Linked DNA regions of Homo sapiens: all the other regions are linked to region 1. The links come from fine-mapping of genetic effects on gene expression. A gene starts in region 1. Each other region holds a variant in brackets. All regions are shown on one strand. Distances are between the middles of the regions.

Region 1 (5,145 bases):
CGGCAGCATTTCTTAAGAGTATTACACATCCAGCAAATCCTCTTTAAAAACAAGACATTCTAAAATGCAACCAGTTTAGCAGTATTTTTAAGACAAAGACAATGCAAGTTCATTAACCTAAAATGGAGCACAAGCTAAGCAAATAACTAAATCAAAGAGTTCTTCTCTCCTTTTCTTTTGTAAAAATGGGGGAAAGGTATTTTTTTAACACATTTAAAACTTGATTAAAGCCATTCAAATGTTTAATTCATCAGTGTAACCAAAGCTCAAAGCACATCAAAGCAGGACCCATCAGCGGGTACCCAGAAGGCTCCCTCCAAAGGGCGGAGGTAAACACATACACACACACACACACACCACCCCTAAAATTAGTGATTCTGTCTTTGTATAAATTACTTGTAGAGTAGCTCGAACCCATTCCTTCAGAAGTTCTGTGGACTCTTGAAGATAGCACAAAACTCAACGTTTGTTTTTCAAAGAGGTTTTAGCCAACACTTTGGCCTCTATCTAACTCAGACTTCCGGGTTGAAATATGTCTTAGAAACTATACCTGCCTACTTGAAAAAGCACCAAATCTAGAGGATGATTTTCATGGGTGTGAAAAAACAAAACTAAACCACATTCTTTTCTTGGCAGTTCTCTTTTCCCCACCTTCCACTTCAATTAAACTTATTTCAGAATCAACTCGCACACATGCAGGGTCCACTACATATATAAAGGGGAAAAAAAATATCAAAAATAATGGAGATGCACTAGCAACTCTGCCTTTGCAGAAATCATTTCTTCTTAAGACAGAAATTCCTCGCTATTTCCAGCAACACCATTCAACAGGCAAACTTTATTTCCACTGGCTTTTAAAGAGCTAAGCTTAAATCTAAACTCTAAGAGGGTTCAATTTTCTACTAATGAAAACCCCCGGACAGGTTTTTCAACATACCAAAACGTTATATTTTTTTATTCACCCTTTTGTCTCTCTCCACATCCACCACCATCACAAGCAGCAGCAGCAGGAGCATCCTCAAACGAAGAAAACCCCTCCAAAGTGCCCCGAATGTGTGCTGCTGCTGGCTCTGAAGCCGTGTAGAATTTCGTAATGGAATGTGAACTGCTCGTCCGGATCTGGGCTCACGTTCTATCTCCTAACCAGTAAGGAGCGAGGGAGGGCAAATCTGCTGAGCAAGGAGAAATACTTTCCTCCTCTTTTATAACCCATCACGGATGCACGGCGGCCGAGGGGCGCGAGCTGCACGCGGCGCCTGTCAAGCGGCCCGGGCCCGCACCCCGTGGGGTCCCCGCGTCCCCCAGCTCCCCGCCCCGCCCGGAGAGAAAGGTGGCCTCGCCCATCGGTGGGCTCGGCCGACGCGCCCCGCACTCACGCGCGGCCGCGGAGCAGGTCACATCCTCGACGCGCCCTTGGCCCGGTCCAGAAAACACGCCGCTTCCCAGGGAGGGGGTCGGCGACGGGAAGGACCTCCCCTGCTCCTTAGCAACCATTAAGGTCGCAGTTTCCTAAGAGACCGCGAGCGGGGAGGGGGCGCGGGGGGCCCGGCCCAAGGCTTGTGCGGGAAGTTGGGGGCGGGGGGGGCAGCAACAGGCCCCCTCCCCCCACCCAGCTAGACGCCGGGGGCCGGGATGGGAGGAGGAAGGGAAGCCCCAGAACTCGTGAAAAACTGGTCCAGCGGGCGGCGGACAAAAGTTTCCGAGCGCGCTCCACAGCTGGGCGGCGGAGCGGGCCCCGGCGGCCGGCCCCGCCTCGGATGCTCCCGGCCTCCTTCCTGTGCTCGTGACGGCGCCGAGCCCCCCACCCCCCCCGCCCGCGAGGCAGGCTAGCTCCACACCGAGGGCTCCCACGAAAACACTCACCCCGCCAACGGAAGGGCGAGGGAACAATACGTGCCCGCACGGCTAGGGCCCGGTCCCCTCCTCCCCAGGCCCCCCGGGGCGGTGGTCGGCGTGACCACGACCGCCAGCCGGGAACCCGCGAGGGCGCGGGGCTGCCCGCGGCCCCCTCCCGGCCGGCGCCGTCCGCCCGGGAGGTTCAAAGTCCGCAGAGCAGGGCGCGGCGGATGCTCCCACCGAGCAGCCCCGAGCAGGCACCCCCGCGCGAGCACCCCGGGCAGGCACCCCCGGATACCTTAGGGCGGCGGCGGGAGGGCGGGCGCCGTCATCTCCGCGCTTCCCGGCCCGAGAAGGACTCGAAAGTATGTAGGAGAAAAGTTTCCCCTCCCACATGGGGGGGAGGATGTCGAGGGAGAGAGGGCGGAAGATGGAGAGCAGCGCTGGGAAGATGTTTCTGGCCGGCGGTGCGCGCACCATCCGAGTCCCGGCGGTGCTGGTTAAAAATAAACTCGGCGGCGCGGGTCGGGCCGGATTCCTGCGCTCGGACGGCTAATATGGATGCGCATCAGGTCCTGCTGGCGGGGCGCTGCGGCGGCTCGCGCTGGGAGCTGGTTGGCAGAGCCGGCGGCTCGGGAAAGGGAAAAGAGCGGAGGAAGGGGAGGAGGAGGAGGAGGAGGAGGAATGGCCCGGCGCGCAGCCCGAGGGGAGAGGGCTGCCCCGCTCATCCCTGGCCGCCCCGCCGGCCCGAGCGCACGCTGCGCGGAGTGGGGCGTGCGGGTCCCCGGCTCCGGGACACACCGAGTTTCAAAAGTACAACGCGCTCTGCAGACTTCACCCTCCCCATCCCCAAAGTTCTTTAAAAGGTCGCTCCGGCTGTGCCCCAGACTTCTCGCTGCCGCCGGCGTACCGCGAGTCGGAATCCGGGGCACGTACTTACGGCCGGGCAGGACGCTTGGCTCCCTGGCATGATGCGTTGGGGACCGGTGGGCTTCAGGGAGAGACCGAGGAGAGATGCAAACTTGTTCCGGAAAAGGAATCAAAATGGCGTTTCTGGATGTGCAAAGTTCATCAACTCCGCAGTCACTTCCCCTCCTCCTCTTCTCCCACAGGGAGGGAGGTGGGCGAGGAGCTGGCGACCCCGGCGCCCCAGCCGTCGTCCCGGCCCCCGTCTCGGCCCCCCGCCCAGCTTCCTCGCCCGCACGCTCGGAGTCTCGCTCTCCCCCTCTCACCCTGATAAGTAGACACATCACGTGTTGCTCCTGCGAGTCTCCTGGGGACGTGTTACTGAGCGGCCGCGGCGGCGGCGGCGGCGGCGGCGGCGGCGCTCGGACTGGGGGGGGTGAGGGGGAGGACCGCCGCCCCCGCCCCGACTTTAGCAGGGTGACCGCAGTTGCCATCCCGGGATGGATGGAGGTGGAGTCCCCTCCCCACCCCCCACCGCAGCCCCAGGTTTGCCCTACGCCCTCCCAAGGCGCCCCGGGCCATGGGAGGGCCGGGCTGCCCGAGGGGAAGGGTCCGGGAGGCCGCGACTGGCTGCGATCCCAATCGTCCCGTTGCTCGCGGGCCACCTTATTCGGCCACCGCGCCCCCTCCCCTGCAGCCCCTCGCCGCGGGCGACTCCCCGCCCCCGGCTTTCCATCACTTCACTCCGCAGTTTCACTATTTTAACGGAGGCGGGGGAGACACGGTGATGCCTCGGAATTGCGAGAGGGGCACCTCAGAGGCGCTGGAGTTGGGGGGATGGGGGGCGTAGGGCTCGGGGCCCTGGCCTGACGCCGCCCCTCTGGGTCTCCGAGGCATCTGCGAGGGGGAGCCCCGCCCGCGCCGTTTCCTTTCCACGCGGTCCTCGCTCTGCATCCAGGTGGGGCGAGTGGATGATGGGGCAGGAGATTAAGGAGCAGGCGCTTCACCCCGCCCCTAGCTTCGAGCCGTTTCTCTCCCGGGGCCATCCTTCTTACTCGGGCTGCCGCCCTGAGTGTGCTCGCCGTCTAACAAACTCAACTCCGACCCGACTTTGGTCCCCCTCCCTTACCCACACCCCACAAAGGATGCTTCAGCGGGGAACTGCCGTGGCCGCCAGGGGCTGAGGACGGTTCCTGCCGCCACTGTGTCCCCACCCCGCGATGGAATGGCTGATGCTGTGTCATCCACGTCGCCCTCCAAGGCTTCAGAGAAGCCACACGCAGTATCTCTTTCTCTCAGAGGGCTCCTGTTTCAACTCTGAAAAGCAGGGGCCCTTCTCCGAGCCGCTCTCCATCTCTCCAGCTCCTGCCACCACGCTTCGCACTGGCTGCCTTGCCCCAAGTTATCACGGAGCCCAGAGAAACCAGGCCTGGGCTGTGCTTCCTCCATAAAGCAGCTGACATGTTTCCAACTGTTAATACTTCTCCTACCGAGGTTCTGAAAGGGGTCTGTTCTCAGCCTTTGGAAACATCTTCAGAAAGATAAGGATGATTGTGGTTGTTGAAAATAAACACGCCCCCCCCCCCCCGCCCCCGTAGTTCTAAAGAAGAATGTCCAAAGAATACTACAGTAGAATTAAGCGTTTGAGTCTGGTTAGGCAAGATGATGTTATGCAGGCAGAAAGCTGGCTACTTTCTATTTACTATGACCTTTGACCCTGGCTCCACCACACCAGCTCCTCTGAGAAGGCTTGAACACCATGGAGAGTTGTAAGCCCAACTGTGGGCCTTTAATTTGAGCCCTTCCATTGACCTCTAGTTTTCAGGGCTGCAGACAGAAGTGTCTGTCTCGGGATGGGTCCTGGCCAGAATAGAACTCTTTAGAACCAAGGAAAAGCAGCTGGACCCTTAGGTCTGATATGAGATAAGTAGGCTAAACCACTGCCCAAGAAGGAGCTGATTCAGCTGGCTGTTTCTCTGACTTTCAGTCATCAAAATTAAGTTTTCGGAACCTGTTATGTTTCCCAGGGTCTACTGTTTACTGAAGAAAACTCCATCCAGAGAAATTTTAGCGGTTGCATTTTTCTGAGCCTCCCCCAACCCCGCCGCCCCCAAATGTATTATCAAATGCTTTTTTGAAGACAGGCCAGTCGTGGAGGAGATGGGCAGGTCTCTAGACAGGAATAATAGTTCACATTGCCATCATAGAATAGGTGTCTTGTGTTTCTAAGTTGTAATGTGTTCCAATGAGGGCAGAGGAAGGGCCCTGTGGGGAATGCTACTTTATTTACTCACTTTGTCTCTGATTCAGGAGCTAGCCTTTCCTGGTCTCCCCATTCAGGGATAAGTTTTGAATAGGAAAAATATCAAAATTGGAATTTTATGCATAATTTAGCAAATCTCC
Region 2 (5,145 bases), 51 kb before region 1:
AGAGAGTAAAGAGCATGGATGGTTATCAAGTAGGATTTAGAGGAGTTTTGTTTTAAAGCAAACCTACAAATAAATATCTATAACCAAAATGCAGCAGATGGGGAAAAACAGCTGGTTTTGAGAAAGATAGGAAAGGAGGGCATGGGGGATCCCAGGCACAGGAAGATGAAACACAGTGAAACATAACACAAACACAGGCAACCATACTAATATACATGTTAATTGTCAAACTGAACTCTATGAACAGTTGTACCTCTTTCTCTTCTGTGTCAAGTCTAACCATCCTAAGAACATCTGCAGTCTTTAATTTGTTTGCCTCCTGGGGTTTTTAAACCCTAAAGCAGGAATAAAGGTGATCTGGGATGGTTTTACCTGCAGGCTTGGGAGGGGAGTTAGTGGATCTCAAAGTAACTTACTTTGCCTAGTGTTGACTAGAGTTTCAGTTCATAGAGGGAAATAATCCATGAAACCAACAATAGAGGGACGTGTCATAAGCAGGCTGACCTCTCCCAGGTGAGTCATCCCCACCCTGCCCCATCTACCCTAAACCTGCTTGAACCTGGTCCCACCTCAAACATAAAGGTCAATGTGGGCTGGACACTGTGCCTCACACCTGTAATCCCAGCACTTTGCAAGGCCGAGGCGAGAGGATCGGTTTGGCCCTAGAGTTCGAGATCAGCCTGGGCAACATGGCGAAACTCTATCTAGACAAAAAACACAAAAAGTTACCCAGATGTGGGCCGGGTGCAGTGGCTCACGCCTGTAATCCCAGCACTTTGGAAGGCTGAGGCGGGTGGATCACGAGGTCAGGAGATGGAGACCATCCTGGCCAACAAAGTGAAACTCCATCTCTACTAAAATACAAAAATTAGCTGGGCATGGTGGCGCGTGCCTGTAATCCCAGCTACTCAGGAGGCTGAGGCAGGAGAATTGCTTGAACCAGGGAGTCGGAGGTTGCAGTGAGCTGAGATTGCACCACAGTACTTCAGCCTGGTGACAGAATGAGACTCCGTCTCAAAAAGAAAAAAAAAAGAAAAAAAAAAAGTTATCCAGGTGTGGTGTTGTGCGCCTGTAATCCCAGCTACTCAGGAAGCTGAACCGGGAGGATTGTTTGAGCTCAGGAGGTCAAGGCTGCAGTGAGCGGTGATCACACCACTGCATTCCAGCCTGGGTGACAAACTGAGACCCTGTCTCAAAAAAAAGTCAATGTGTGAAAACATGGGAAAATGTTTATAAAGTTAGGTCAAGTTTAAAAAGCTAGCTGGCACATTTAAGATTCTATGCTATACTTATGGATAAAGTCTAGAAAAGGCAATCTGAAACAACGTATGTATCATGAGAATACAGTGCTTTTTTAAGTATAATTTGATGTCACTATTTTTTTTTAAAAAAACTTAACATAATTTTTGAAAATATACCAGAAAGACCCAACTATTCGTGACGCCAGGAGTTTGAGACCAGCTTGGGCAATATAGCAAGACCCCTGTGTCTAAAAATTTTTTTTAATTTGCTGGGCTTGGTAGTGAGCTATAATTGTACCACTGAACTCAAGTAGCCTGGGTGGCAGAGGGAAAACCTGTCTCATTTAAAAAAAAAAAATGCAAAAAAGAAAGTGATCAAATTTCAGTCCTTAATTGCACCCTGCCCTCCCTCCCCCAATTTATGTATCTTTAGTCTGTAGCTCAGTGCCTGGCACACAGTAGGCATTGTTTCTCTCAATCTATAACAGGTACTGCAAGCCAACTATGGGCCAGCTGAGCTGAACAGATGACATGCTTAGGTTGATAAGCCTTGTTCTGTAGACAAGTGCAAGAGTCATACCCTTGAAACCACATGTAAAATGCAGACAGTATTCAGCTTTAGGAAAATAGTCCATAAATTTGATCAGCCTTTCAAAAGAATCTATGATTTCCAGGAAAGGACAGAACTACGGCAGTGGTCTGACCCTCAGCAGATTTAATCCTACTTTTGGAGAGTTAAGGAGACTGGCAGGCTTTTTCCTTACTTACTACTGCCATCAGTTTCAGGCAGGCCACCAACAATAAGTAAAAACACTGGCAACACCAAATCCTCTAACCTTCCCTTTTCTTGTAAAGATGAGATGAGATAAACCATCTCATCAGCGTTTTGATATTTCACTCAAAACATTATTGACACAAGGCAATAACCCAGTGAACATTCGTTAAATCAATTCCTAAAGCAATCCGCCCAGTGCCTGTAATAAACAGTTATAATTTTAAAACAGAACTCATCCTCTGGAAAGGAACGAGAGGGGAGACATCCTTGTGAGCCCCATCTATGCGGCTGTCCCGTTATTCCAGGAATGATGTTGGGATTCGAGTTAGTTTCTGAATGATGACTATCAGGTTAAAACTTTCTCAGTGTGACTGTGAACACATCTAGGCCATCAAAGATGCTGGGGAGGTTTTCTGTAAAGAAGTCCTCCTGTGGGTGTAAACATGGCCCACAACCTATCAATTCCTAGGAACCTCAAAGGGGTCACAGAATAGAGGGTGGTCTTACGGAGAATGTTTGTTTTGCAATAAGTAAGAGGTACAGGGGCCTTAGTGATCCTTTTAAATTTAAGTCAACAATCATTAAATCTGAGTCCCCCTATGCACTGAACATTTCTGCTTACTTAAATTGCAGTGCATAAATCGGCTATAAAAGGAGGGATTATATCAACTATAAAATTCAAAAGTCACAACCAGGGGAGTGGGAAAAGTGACTGTGATTTAAAGGTGTTTGGAGGGTAGGGGTGAGCTGGCTCAGTCCTTCTTTTATCCTGTGTCCTTTGAAGATGAAAACTAATCAGTTTTTTCCTGGCCTTTAAGCTATCAAGGTTTAAAAAAAAAA[G/AG]AGTCTGAAAAAAATAAACAAATGGGACCCACAATCTACCTTCAAATGATTTGGGGGTGAAATACTCTACTTTAGGCCCTCAAATATTTCTTGATGATAAAAATGTATGTCAGCTACTTCAATTAGTAACTCCTGATCCACTACTAGGTTGGGGTGGGGAACTCCATAAGCTTACCACTTGGTAAGAGGTAAAAGAAAGCTTGGGAAGGTAAGAGAATTAAGTGCTGTCTATACAATTCTAATTTTAGGTCTAGAAAAAGCAGAGATTAGTGGACTGGGGTAGTGTAAGAGGAAGGGTATGGAGGTGGAGGCTGGAGGGAGCTGATACCCAGGAAGTACCACAAGAAGCCCAGGAGCCAGGTCCTGCTGAAGGGCAGGGGCCTCATTACAGAGGGTGTGTGTGGAGTGGGCAAATTACAGGAGGTGGGAGAGTTGGGGTTGGGTCTGGGGCAGTAGGGGGTGTAGGCTGAGAAAAGTGATGTAAGAGTTTTAAGAAAACCTGTTTGAACATGGTATGGGATTGCAGGGGAGGGAGACCTGCCTACAAACGGGAACAAAGGGAATAGGGAGGGAAAGTTAAACCTGAACAACTTTCAAAGGGGAGGCAGGTGGGGTAGACAATGGAAAGGGCAGAAAGGAAGAGAGTCGCTCTGGCCACAGGCAAGTGTCCTGGGGCACTAAATGGTGCTTGGGAAGAAGTTTTAGATTGTTAGGGGGGTTAGGCTACATTCTTTTGCAGAGATTCTTGAATGTGAAGAAATGGAAAGGGATCCAGAAGGTCTTGGTCCTGTGGGATTCATACCCTGAAGAATGCACGTGGGATGAATCCCTCCACAGAGAAGTCAGGCATGAGCCGGCTGATGATATTCAGGGCTAAGCAGGGTCACTGATGAGAACATGAAAACACCCCTGGTAGGGCACAGGCACAGCAACAGGGGCTGGCAAGGATGAGGTCCCCAGGAGGCAGGAATCCAGACAAATGTGAAGGCATTAGCAGCGAGTGGTAGAGCCCTCTTCTGGAGTCAGGAGGGATGAAAGAGCAAAGAGGAACAGTGGAGAGGGAGCACAAGAGAACTCGTAAGTTGGATTTTTTTTTTTTCCCAAAGAGACAGACAGAGTCTTGCTCTGTCACCCAGGTTGGAGTATGGCTCACTGCAGCCCTGACTTTCCAGGATCAAGCAACCCTCCGACCTCAGCTTCTCAAATGCTGGGACCACAGGTGCGCACCACCACACCATGCTAACTTTATTTTTTTTTTGGAGAGACGGAGTCTCACTATGTTGCCCAGGCTGGTCTCGAACTCCTGGGCTCGAGCAATCCACCTGCTTCAGCCTCTCAAAGTGCTGGGATTACAGGCATGAACCACTGTGCCTGGCCCATGGTCACACAGGGTACATGTGCACACAGTAGGCACTCAATTTTTTTTTTTTTTGAGATGGAGTCTTACTCTGTTGCCCAGGCTGGAGTGCAGCTGCACGATCTTGGCTCACTACAACCTCCACCTCCCGGGTTCAAGCAATTCTTGTGCCTCAGCCTCCTAAGTGGCTGGGACTACAGGCACGCCCCACCACACCTGGCTAAGTTTTTGTATTTTTGGTAGAGACAGGGTTTCACCATGTTGCCTAGGCTGGTCTCCAACTTCCTGAACTCAAGCCATCTGCCTGCCTCTGCATCCCAAAGTGCTGGGATTTCAGACGTGAGCCACCGCGCCCAGCCAAATATTTTACTAATTAATTAGTCATCTCCAAAAAATGGGCAGTCGGGTCTTATACTATGAGTAAGAAGAAGAGAAAAGAAGAGCTGATGGATTACGGAGCAAAGGACCCCAGGGAGCTGGGGCAAGGCAGCCCAGCGGCAGTCAGACAGACAAAGTCCTCCCCAACAGCCAGGGACGACGAAGCTGAACAGAGGGGCAGCTCTTGGTCAGCTTTGGCATTTAAGACCATGTGATCTCAAGGTGCTCTTGAACAAGAATGGGTACACAGGAGCAGCCAAGTGGCACTCTGGAACCCTCTCCTCCTACTCAGGGTACGTACACAGCATCCTGTTTCCTACGCTGGATGGCTGGCTAAGGAGAAGGAAGGAAAACTAAGATTGTCTTATTTCAAAGGGCTGCAACTATATTCCAGCTGTTACAGGCAAGCCTGTTATGTTTCTTCCAACGGATGCCCAATTCACACACATAGCTGCTCTCCTCAAGAATAAACAAGTGGATTCTATATACAAATACCAAGGGCACCAGGTCTCCAAAAGGAGAAAAAATTTGTTTTACAAATGTCCAACCCAAAA
Region 3 (5,120 bases), 140 kb before region 1:
TGAAGCTAGAATCTTCCCTGGTTTTGGCCTGAAACCATATTGGAAACCTTCATCAACCACATCCTGTAATACCAAGGACCAGATGACAGCTCCACCATGAAGCACAAAGAAAAAAGGAAAATGTCTATTTAAGAAATTATCATCTTATCCATCTTTCCTCTGGTCATTTACATGAAATTCACATCATTTTCTTCCAGTTATTGGCTATGGGTACCCAAGGGTATGTTTTTTCCTTCTGTTTCCAGCTCACAGAACAAACGGTGCTATCACAGATTCACAAGAACAAGCTCACACACACCAATACAAAATAACGCTAATGCTCAAATGAAGAGGTCCTCTCCAGACAATTCATTATAATATTTGTTTTGTTTAAGAAGTCATTTTGGAAAAATACAACACCCATGATAATATGGAGGGATCCGGTAAGTAGTTAAGGCACTGGAATCGGCACGGGCTGTGGCCTCCCGCGCAGGCTGCGGTAAGGCTATGGCACTGAGCGAGCAGCCACGCTCCTGCTTGTCTCTCTCTCTCTCTCTCTCTCTCTCTCTCTCTCTCTCTCTCACTCCTCAACAGCCAAAGGGCACTGAGGAAACCCCATGAAGTATAGACGCTTTGCTCTGCTGGCTTTTGTCTGTGCTGAGGGGGACTGAGGCTGTCACTCCATCCCCACGAGCTGGGAGGCGCCATCAGCTGTGGCCAGGATTGGGTGGGCAGGCCTCTTGCTGCGCGGCTCCAGCAGGTCCTGCCCCAGGGCCGCCGGGCTCTCTGGGTTAAGGTCACCCTGGCCAGGCTCAGACGGCCACCCTGCCGTGACCTTCTCCTCCCTGTGGCTGCAGTCCTTGGTGGCACTGGCCAAGCCCTCCTTCCGGCTCCGGGTGACAGCCATGTGGTTGCTGGCATTGGGAGCCAGCTCAGCCTCGTTCTCTGAGACGGCGTTGTTGCCGCTGTGGGTGGACTCATTCTCGCTGTCCTCCTCACCCCGCTCTTCCTTGTCGCTGTCCTTCCCGTGGTGTTTGGCATGCCTGGCTTTCTGGTGGATCCGCTGGTGGCGAACCAGGCTGTGCTTCAAGGTGAAGGTTCGCTCGCAGGTCTGACATTTGTATGGCCTTTCCCCTGGAACAATGGAAGAAAGAATTTCCATTAACCAAAAGGCACCAGTACCCACTGCACCCTGCTCTGCACAGGAAGAATGAGGCTCCCAGGCTATGTGCGGGGGGCCAGGACTCCGTCCTACTCAGCCAGAGGCCTCTTCCTTGAACCAGCAAACTGAGGACGGACAAGCTCTGTTTGCTGGTTCAAGCTGTCAGTCTGAGACCTTTCCTCTCCTTCCTCTCTCAGCCCAGGCACTCTACATACTGATCCAGAAAACCCAGGTCCCAGAAGCAGAAGCCTCAGGAGATGTGCAGACTGGCCTCGACCAGAGACTGGGAAGGAATCTAGAGGGGGACAGGAGTGGACCCTCTCAGGGATCTGTATGGACAGCAGCACCTAGGTCGGGGGCACCAGTTACCCTCTGCATTGCGATGTGGTGCAGCGGGGGCTTTCCTGATGGCTCACACGCCAGGCCCAGGGCAGGGCCCACCACGCTTGTTGGGAGCCCAAGAATATCCCTCTTCTGAGAGCCAAGGACCCTGGCCCTTCACACGGGCAAGCGCAGGGCAGAGCCGACTGCGCTGGGTCGGGGCACATGTGTTCACTGCGGGCTGCAGCTGTGACAGGGAGGGAAGCTGCGGCTGAGAGGAGGGACAGGTTATTTTGGAAAGAAGAAGGATATATCTCTGGACTCCATGAGCATATTCAGGTCTTTGTGTCAAAGTAAGCGCCCCTGCTCTGGGGTCTGCAGCCTCCACCCTGCAGGTGGTGGGTGAACTCTAGAACGGTGTGAAGGGCAGTGGCTAAGGGTCCTGTCCCAGTCATCTCAGCCGAACTGCACGGCTAAGAAAGGAAAAGGCCCTCCTGACCCTAATGGATCACCCAGGGTGCCTGCCCCACAGCGGCCTGGGGCAGTGCCTGTCGTCCAGGCCACAGGACTAGACAGGACTAAGTGGCCCAAATGCCCAGCACAAGCACCCTCTCCTAGATACCTCTATGAAACAGGGCAGCTGTTACCCCCACTCTACAGATGGGGAGGCGGAGGCAGCAGAGCTAAAGGCGGATCACAGCGTTCTCAAAAACACAACGGCCAAGGACCCTCTCCTGCCTGGCTGCAGGAGGCCTGCACCGTCTTCAAGGGCTGAGAGTACAACTCCTTAAAACTCCTAGTTCACGGGCTTAAAGGGCACACCGGCAACGTAAGCAAACGTTCTCTCGGTGGCCTCCAGCGCCGCTTCAGGGGAGCTCCTAGGAGAGGTGCCCGGCTCGCCTCCTCTTGTTGGGCCGGGGACCTGGCCTGCCCTGGTTACCTGTGTGGGAGCGCATGTGCCGGGTCAGGTCCTGCAGCGACCAGAACCGCTTGTTGCACACGCTGCAGACCTTCTTCCTCTTGTCTGCCTTGCTGGCCACGCTTTTGGGGGAGTCTGTCTTTGGTTTCTTGTCATCGTCGCTCTTCTCTGAGGACCTTTTCTCGGCCGCGCTCTCCCCGTCGGAGGGGCCCTCCGTCTCCTCCGCG[A/G]GCTTTTCCGCCGGGGCCTCCCCGGCACCCGGGGCCGACTCCACCACCTCTGCCGGGGTCTCGGGGGGCTTCTCCTCCTGTTCAGGGGCGGGCTGGGGCCCCTCCTCTGCAGTGCTGGCGCCATCTCCCTTCTCGTCCTTGGGCTCCTGGCGGCCGTGCGCCTTCCGGTGGCGGCTCAGGGTGCCCAGGAACTTGAAGCTCTTCCCACAGGTGTCGCAGGCGAGCTTCTGCTCCTGCGAGGCCGCGCCCCCGGCGCCTGCCTCGCCGTCGCCCTCCGCCAGCTTGAAGTCCATGAGCTTGGTGGCGAAGTCCAGGTCCAGGCTCTGGTTGCTCGACGCGTCCTCTTCCGCGCCGTCGGCGTCCCCAGTGCTCTCCTCAGTGCCATGCTCCTCCTCCGGCTCATGGCTCTCCCCACGCCCGTGCTCTTCCCGGTGCACCGGCGAGGCCGTTTCCGCCGTGGCCTGCTCCACAGGCGCATCCCCTGCGACCTGGCGGAGCTCAGTGGCGCCCTCCGACGGCTGCTCTCTGTCCCGTGAGGTGAGGTCTAGCACTTCGCCCGCGGCGGCTGCAGTCTCCGCATCCGACTGACTGTCTGTGGGGCAAGCACAGCGGGGAGGGCTCAGAGGGGCACCACCAGGTACGCCCATGCCAGGGATGTCGCCGGGAATGGGCTAGACCCACGCCAGCAGCCTGAACCCCAAACCAGTGAGGACTTCTTTCGGCCCAAATCCTCACCACCTGTTACATCCCCCAGGAGGACCAAGATGACCCTGGGGACGTGAAGAAAGGCAAAAGCAGCCTCCACATCACCTCAGGTGTGTTCCCAGGGCTGGCTGTGCCCCTGAACCCCTGGCTTCCACTGCCCCCGCCCCCAGGAAGGTGTGAGTGACTCAGGCAGGGCAGACAGGGGCTGCGAGATAGGAGAGGGGTGCATTCCAGAGACTCGCAGCGCTAGGGAAGTTGAGGAAGCTTGAGTTATAAGTTATTTTTCCAGTGCAAAGAGATCATACAAACATGCAACATACACAGGACCACCCCTACCCCTAATCCTCCAAAGCATGGTCTTGATGAGTTTCACAGGAAACGACCCCAAGCCTGCGTTGTGTGTGTATGGTATGCACACTCTTGCCTGACGCTCATCTCCAGGTGGAGGCTGCAGAGACCCAAGGGGGCGCAGGCAAGCTTGTAGGCTTCCTAGCTGTCAGCCTCCCAGGGGTGGTGGAATCTTTCAAAGGAAGGGCACCCTTGATGCCAGGCTTGGCAACAGCACACAGTGAGGGGAGCGGACTGTGAAGGGCTGTGGGTGCCTGTGAAGACAAGGGGTTCTGGGTTCCAGGCATCTCACCTACCCTGACTTCCTGCCTCTTGATTTGTTCCTATCTGTCCATTCCACCCAGTAAAACTGTATGTGGAAAGCCTATCAGTTTTCAACAGTCCTTTTAAGGGATGGCACGGCTGCAATATTCACATCAAACAGTGTCAAAAGGCCTTCTCTTTACTAAGGTTGAAAGAAGACTTAATAACTTCTTAAAATTATGCATTACGACAGTACATTGGAAGCTGGTGGGACCTATTATTTAGCTGCAGATCCTATGTCTGATTTAGTTTTTATTATTTTTTCAAGACGGAGTTTCGCCTTGTCGCCCAGGCTGGAGTGCAATGGTGTGATCTCCACTCACTGCAACCTCCACCTCCCGGGTTCAAGCAATTCTCCTGCCTCAGCCTCCCAAGAGCTGGGATTACAGGCGCCCACCACCACGCCCAGCTGATTTTTGTATTTTTAGTAGAGATGGGGTTTCATCATGTTCGCCAGGCTGGTCTCGAACTCCTGACCTCAGGCGATCTACCCACCTCAGCCTCCCAAAGTGCTGGGATTACAGGCGTGAGCCACCGTGCCCGGCCACTGTCTGATTTATTACTGCAGGGATTCAAGTTCCTCTGATAATTGGGTGGATGAAAGTCATTGTTTTATGGCACAAGTACGAGATGCCCCTCCCTCAATAGGCCAGATGTGATTGCAGTCCTTGAGCCAGCAGATTCACGCACCTAACCTGGATTCTCACTTGACGTGATCAGGTGTAACTACAATGTCAACCTGCATCCATCACACCTCCTCAATGTCACATGCTTGATGATTTGCCATCAAGGCGGTCAGGAGGGCTGGGGTAAGGAGCTGGTTCTGCCCCGTCCTGAGGTCTGAGGAGACAGTACCTACTGTTCACACCTGCTTGGGGCTTTAGGCTTTACCCACAGCCATCTGCATAACGCGGCTACTTACATCATTTCATTTCATTAGTTTTACACTGACTGCACTTTTTGGCAGCCACTGTTTGGGTATCTCAAGAGGTTTCAGAAAGAAATATTATGGTGTGAATATAACATTTTAAAGAAGAAATGATTTTGCAAAATTATCCAAAAGCTTAAAGAATATGAGTCCTGGGATATGCACACCAATGTCTGGGCCACATTCCAAGGAAAAACTAGATGTTCGTTTTTCTTGAATCATTTCAAC
Region 4 (5,145 bases), 150 kb before region 1:
TCTCAGCCCAATGGCCTGTCTTCACCCTCACCTTCAGGGAACTGGGCTCCCTCTTTTTAGGCAACACTGTTCTCGCCCACTTCCTTTTCAAGCGTCTCACCCTCTGTCCTCTGACGCTTCTTCCCCAGCGTGTCTGTCTCTTTCCTAGGTCCCTAGGTCCTAGGTCTACCCCGGCCACCTTTCCTGATCTCATTCACTCCTACGGCTCCTCCCACAATAACCCCAACCTGGCTGTAGCTCTTACCCGACCCCTGGGCTCCAGACATCTCCACCTGGATGTCTGCAGTGGACCCACAAGTCTTTCTTCTCCTCCTGGAGGCAGCCCCCACATTCTCTTCTTGGGATCCTCCCCTTTTCTGTGCAGGAGGGGTGGGGATATTTGACTTGCCCACTGCTTCAAGAATGACGTGTGACCCAGAGGTGGGCACATGCCTCAGACCAGCCTGAAGTTCTGGTCTCTTGTTAGGATGAGCTGCTGTAGTCCCCAAGCTGGCTGCGCATAAGCTGAGCGACACTGCTGCCTGGCAGGTGCTCTCCCTGAGGAAGAAAGCAGAACCAGGAGATGGGACATGGTGGGCTCGAACATGAGCTTTGGTGGACGTGCATCTAACTAAAGTCACTTTCTGGACTTTTTGTCAATGTGGGCTAACCCATTCTCATTTTTGTAGAGGCTGATCTGAGTTATTTATTTATTTATTTATAGTAGAGATGGGGGTCTTACTTTGTTGCCCAGGGTAGTCTCGAACTCCTGGACTCAAGTCCTGCCTCTGTCTCTGCCTCCCAAAGTGTTGGGATTATAGGCATAAGTCAATGCACCCAGCCTCTGAGTTGAATTTTTGTCACTTGAAGACCTCTGATAGACACCTCCAACAAGAAGGAACCCATGATCTCTGTGTTCCATCAAACTGACTTCTCCACCTGGCTTCCCCGGCATCCTTCATGGCACCACCTCCCCCAATTTCCGGTGACAATGTTGAAAGCTTGAGTGCGCCCCCATTGCAATCTTCGTTAATCAAGTACTGCCAAATGCGATCTCTCCAGTGCTCCTCTCCTCCCCAGCCCACTTCAAACCCTCATTACCTTTTCTCTCTCTCCCCAACTCCTTTTTTTTTTTTTCTTTGAAAGGGCCTTGCTACATTGTCCAGGTTGGTCTCGAACTCCTGAGGTCAAGTGATCCTCCTGCCTCAGCCTCCCAAGTAGCTGGGATTACAGGTGCACACCACCACATCTGGCCCTCGTTACCTTCTGCCTAGACTGTTTGATGATTTCTCTGCTGGCTCCCCGTCTCACACTGTTGCTAGGACGTTTCTAGACCACAGTTCCGGTGCATTCACGGATGCCCTCAAGAACCTTCAACGGCTCCCACCTCCAGCAGGAAATGAACTCAAGTGTTCAGAGCTCTCCTGACTCCCTGACTCGCTCATGCGTCTATTCACGGTCTGCTGTGCGGCGTGTCAGCCAGTGGCCTGCCTCCCCTTCCAGCCGTAGCCCACACCACTCTGATGTGATGGGACACCCCGTGGCCAGCTTCCCTGTGCCCTGAGCTTCTTCCTGGCCCCGGGCCGGCGACGCTCCTCCACCCTGCTGCAACCTGCAGAAATCCTTCCAGGGGCCTCGTTCTATAAATTCTGTCTACATGTCCCCAAGCAGCAGTGCCCCCCACCTCCAAATGCCCTTGATGCTCTGGGCTTGCCACTCCATTTAACAGTGTCCTTCTCGGCTGTTTTCTCCGAAGCGGCTGGAGGGCAGAGTCTGTGTCTCATTTGCCTGAGATTTCCTCCCCTGCTGAGCTCAGGGCCTGCAAATATTTGCTGGGTAGACATGGATGGACAGCCTGACCAGGACGCCTCCTGCTCCCAGCACTGCCCCTCCCCGTCTGGGGTCCTCCTTCCGAGTCATCTGGATACGCCAGCAAGCCTAGATTCTCATCTGCCTGCCGGACTCCCCGGACTTTTTCAGAGATCATTGCAAAGCTCACCGCCATAAAGCCAATCTGCAAACACTTTTCTTGCTTCTTTTTTTAACCTCAATTAAACACACTAAAATACATAAATGAGTAAATAAATAAATAACAGGACAACTTGGTGTGGTGTAATTCAGGTTTGGTAAACAATGATGGTGTTCTCTTCTTACTCGCACCCCCTCCTCTGCCACCTCTCTCACGCTCTCCTGCTCTCTCCTGCCACCCTCCAGGTGCCCTCTCTGACCCCACCTCCCCTCCTGCCCTCACTCACAGTCAGGAAGGCTTCCCATTTCCTCCCGACTTCCCCAGTGGGACCCAAGTCCTTGGGAGTCAGGACAGAAGGTGACTTGGGTGGAGGCAGTGAGCTAGGAAAGAAAGGCAGCAGGTATGATCTGGGCCATTCGGAGGGCAGGGCAGGGGCAAGGAGGCTTGGCTGGCTGGGTGGTGCTCTGGGGCCCATCCACCCTGAACTGGGAGGAAGGGTGTTGCCCCCATCCAGTGAGCATGGGTGGCAGGGGCACTGAGCTGCAGAGGCCACCACCCCAGAGCCGCCAGAGCCACTCTTGACCAAGCACTGAGGACCAGCCTTGGCACAGGCCCTGGGTGGAGAAGTCCCAAGGACACCAAACCCACCGTTAGTGCTGGCTTGACTGAGCCTCCCTAGTGCTGATACCAGATAACAAGTGCAACTGTGTCCAGATCCGAGGGCAGCCGTGGGCGTGAGATTC[A/G]TGGGAGGGCAGGGCCGCCAAAAACAGGAGTGGCTGGTTCAAAACACTGAACGGGGTCAGGGGCCATTGGTTAGGCCTTGGTATGGAAACAGAATTCTAGGTGGGGACAGACGGGGGCCCCACAGACAGGAGCGTGGAGCAGTGCCATGGGGTCAGCAGGGAGACCCGACAGGACCAAGGAGCTGAGGGAGGTGGGCAGGGTCAGCAGCAGGGCCGGCTTCCTGCAGTGGGACCCCTGCGAGGGCCTGTGCTTGGAGTTCAATGCTCCCAGGGCCCCATCTTGAAACTCTTTACGATACTATCTTTGAACTGAGATTCGTCAGTGAACTCTGATGGGACAATGGAGTGTGCACTGGCTGCCGGGAGCCCTGGCTCCTATGTGGTCCTGCCTCCCTCTCTCTCCTGCCTCCCTGGGACGGGCTCTTGGCCACTCAACCCCCTGCCCTTGCCTAGTGATTGCGGCCCCCTTGGCTCCTGGTGGAGGCCTGGGTGTGGAGGCAGAGAGGGTCGGGTGGATGTGAGATCTCAGGCACCTGTGGACACCTGCATGTAAGTATCCCAATGTCTAAGGTAATGTGGCCTTGGAGAGCCCATTGGCCGGGCACAGTGGCTCACGCTGTAATCCCAACACTTGGAAGGCCGCGGTGGGAGGATTGCTTGAGCCCAGGAATTTGAGACCAGCCTGGGCAACATGGCGAAACCCCATCCTACAAAACATACAAAAAAATTAGCCGGGTGTGGTGGTGTGCACCTTGGTCCTAGCTACTCGAGAAGCTGAGGCAGGAGGATCACTTGAGCCTGAGAGATTGAGGCTGCAGTGAGCTCAGATTGCGTCGCTACACTCCACCCTGGGCGACAGAGTGAGACCGTGTCTCTTAAAAAACAAAAAACAAAACAAAACAAAAACAAACACAAGATGGGCACAGTGGCTCATGTCTGTAATCTCAGCACTTTGGGAGACCAAGAGGGCAGATCACTTGAGGCAGCCAGAAGTTCGAGACCAGCCTGGGCAACATGGTAAAACCTTGTCTCTACTAAAAATACAAAAAAAATTAGCCAATTGTGGTGGCATATGCCTACAGTCCCAGCTACTCAGGAGGCTGAAGCACGAGAACTGCTTGAACCCAGGAGGTGGAGTTTGCAGTGAGCTGAGATTGTGCCATTGCACTCCAGCCCAGGCGACAGAGTGGGGCCCCACATTTTCATTTATCCATATGGATCCCAGCATTATGAGCCAGCCCTGACAAGTGCGTATCAGGAGACCAGGGACCCAAAGCTTCAGGGAGGTAAGCCAGGTGGAGGCAACTGCTCCTAGACTCAGTGCCAAGGTCGAGCCCAGCCACAGGTTCTTAGAAGTTCCCTTTTGGGGGGTAGGTGGTAAAGTTGGGTGGGAGCACCTGTGCCAATGTATGTAGAGGAGTGGCTGCAAAAGCAGGGAAAGAGGCCAGGCAGGAGGCTTGAAGGAAGTTTCCAGTACATATCCTAGATATCAGAGAGTTACCCCAGACCAAACAATGGCTCCATTGCAAACAATTTGCCTTGGTGTTAGCTTGAGGGGCAACTAGAGGTACAACTGAGGGGCAGGAATCTGGAACAGTCTTTAACAGAGCCCTGGTTTGCAAACTTTTCTGGGCTTTAGCAAATTCTCTAGGAATTTGCTAAAAATGTATATGGCTGGGTCCTCCCTCCTGAGATCCTGAATTAGTAGATCTGAAATGCAATTTTTTTTTTTTTTTTGAGACAGAGTCTCACTCTTGTCACCCAGGCTGGAATGCAGTGGCGTGATCTTGGCTCATGGTAACATCTGCCTCCCATGTTCAAGTGATTCTCCCGCCTCAGCCTCCCGAGTAGCTAGGATTACAGACACCTGCCACCATGCCAGCCTAATTTTTGTATTTTTAGTAGAGATGGAGTTTCACCATGTTGGCCAGGCTGGTCTTGAACTCCTGACCTCAGGTGATCTGCCCACCTTGGCCTCCCAAAGTTCTGGGATTACAGGTGTGAGCCACTGCACCCGGCCTGAAATGCAATTTTTAACAAGCAACCCAAAGAATGGTTCTTTTAGTGGGTAGGTGAGTGGGTGGGTTGTACACACAGAGGCACCTGATATGAGCGAGAAAAAATGGTCTTGGAGGCTCTGCCCTAGCTGATGCCTCATGGAGGACAGATGAGCCATCCCTGCAGAGCCCTGCCCAACCCACCGAATCCTGACCCAAAGTTTTGGTGTTCTTCGTCATGCAGCAAAAGAGAACTGGAACAGTTGGGAATTTACTCAGTGACCCTGGGAATATGTATGCCAAATATCTATGTGCCAAATCACAACAGTGCCATGTTTCCTAGAGGCCACGCATTCCTAGTTTTCAGTAACTCCCTTTTCAGTGGACGACACACACCACCCATTCTTGGGGACTTCTGTTTTAGGATTTTTCTGGTGGAGAATTTCATCCCAACAAA

Alleles and levels. Alleles are on the strand shown, and positions count from the first base shown. SD is a standard deviation of normalised expression in the study named. Not every link is listed here.
For the expression in monocytes of the gene that starts at base 2,876 in region 1, allele A in region 4 goes with a lower level than allele G (moderate effect, 0.48 SD a copy in Kim-Hellmuth 2017).

The links. PIP is the estimated chance that this variant, and not a neighbour inherited with it, causes the effect. A credible set is the group of variants that fine-mapping cannot tell apart.
Region 2: its variant is the best candidate, but not a certain one, in a credible set for the expression of RREB1 in whole blood (INTERVAL, PIP 0.55).
Region 3: its variant is the best candidate, but not a certain one, in a credible set for the expression of RREB1 in blood mononuclear cells (TOPMed, PIP 0.51).
Region 4: its variant is the best candidate, but not a certain one, in a credible set for the expression of RREB1 in monocytes (Kim-Hellmuth 2017, PIP 0.58).

The regions. Positions count from the first base shown.
Region 1 is chr6:7,105,692-7,110,836 of GRCh38, reverse strand. RREB1 (ras responsive element binding protein 1) reads right to left here and starts at 2,876. Exons shown (of 13, transcript NM_001003699.4): 1 at 2,777-2,876. RefSeq lists silencers at 1,508-1,597, 1,618-2,107, 2,898-3,117, 3,178-3,657 and an enhancer at 4,008-4,067.
Region 2 is chr6:7,156,577-7,161,721 of GRCh38, reverse strand. All of the region lies in intron 1 of RREB1 (ras responsive element binding protein 1), which reads right to left. Among named protein-coding and RNA genes, the nearest start is that of RREB1, 51 kb to the right of the region's middle. RefSeq lists enhancers at 352-646, 265-1,226, 4,609-5,145. The variant G/AG (reference allele first, on the strand shown) is at 2,857.
Region 3 is chr6:7,244,504-7,249,623 of GRCh38, reverse strand. It overlaps RREB1 (ras responsive element binding protein 1), which reads right to left. Exons shown (of 13, transcript NM_001003699.4): 12 at 2,403-3,200; 13 at 1-1,113. The coding sequence ends at 656. Among named protein-coding and RNA genes, the nearest start is that of SSR1, 66 kb to the left of the region's middle. The variant A/G (reference allele first, on the strand shown) is at 2,609.
Region 4 is chr6:7,255,837-7,260,981 of GRCh38, reverse strand. No RefSeq gene overlaps it. Among named protein-coding and RNA genes, the nearest start is that of SSR1, 55 kb to the left of the region's middle. RefSeq lists an enhancer at 2,101-2,600. The variant A/G (reference allele first, on the strand shown) is at 2,692.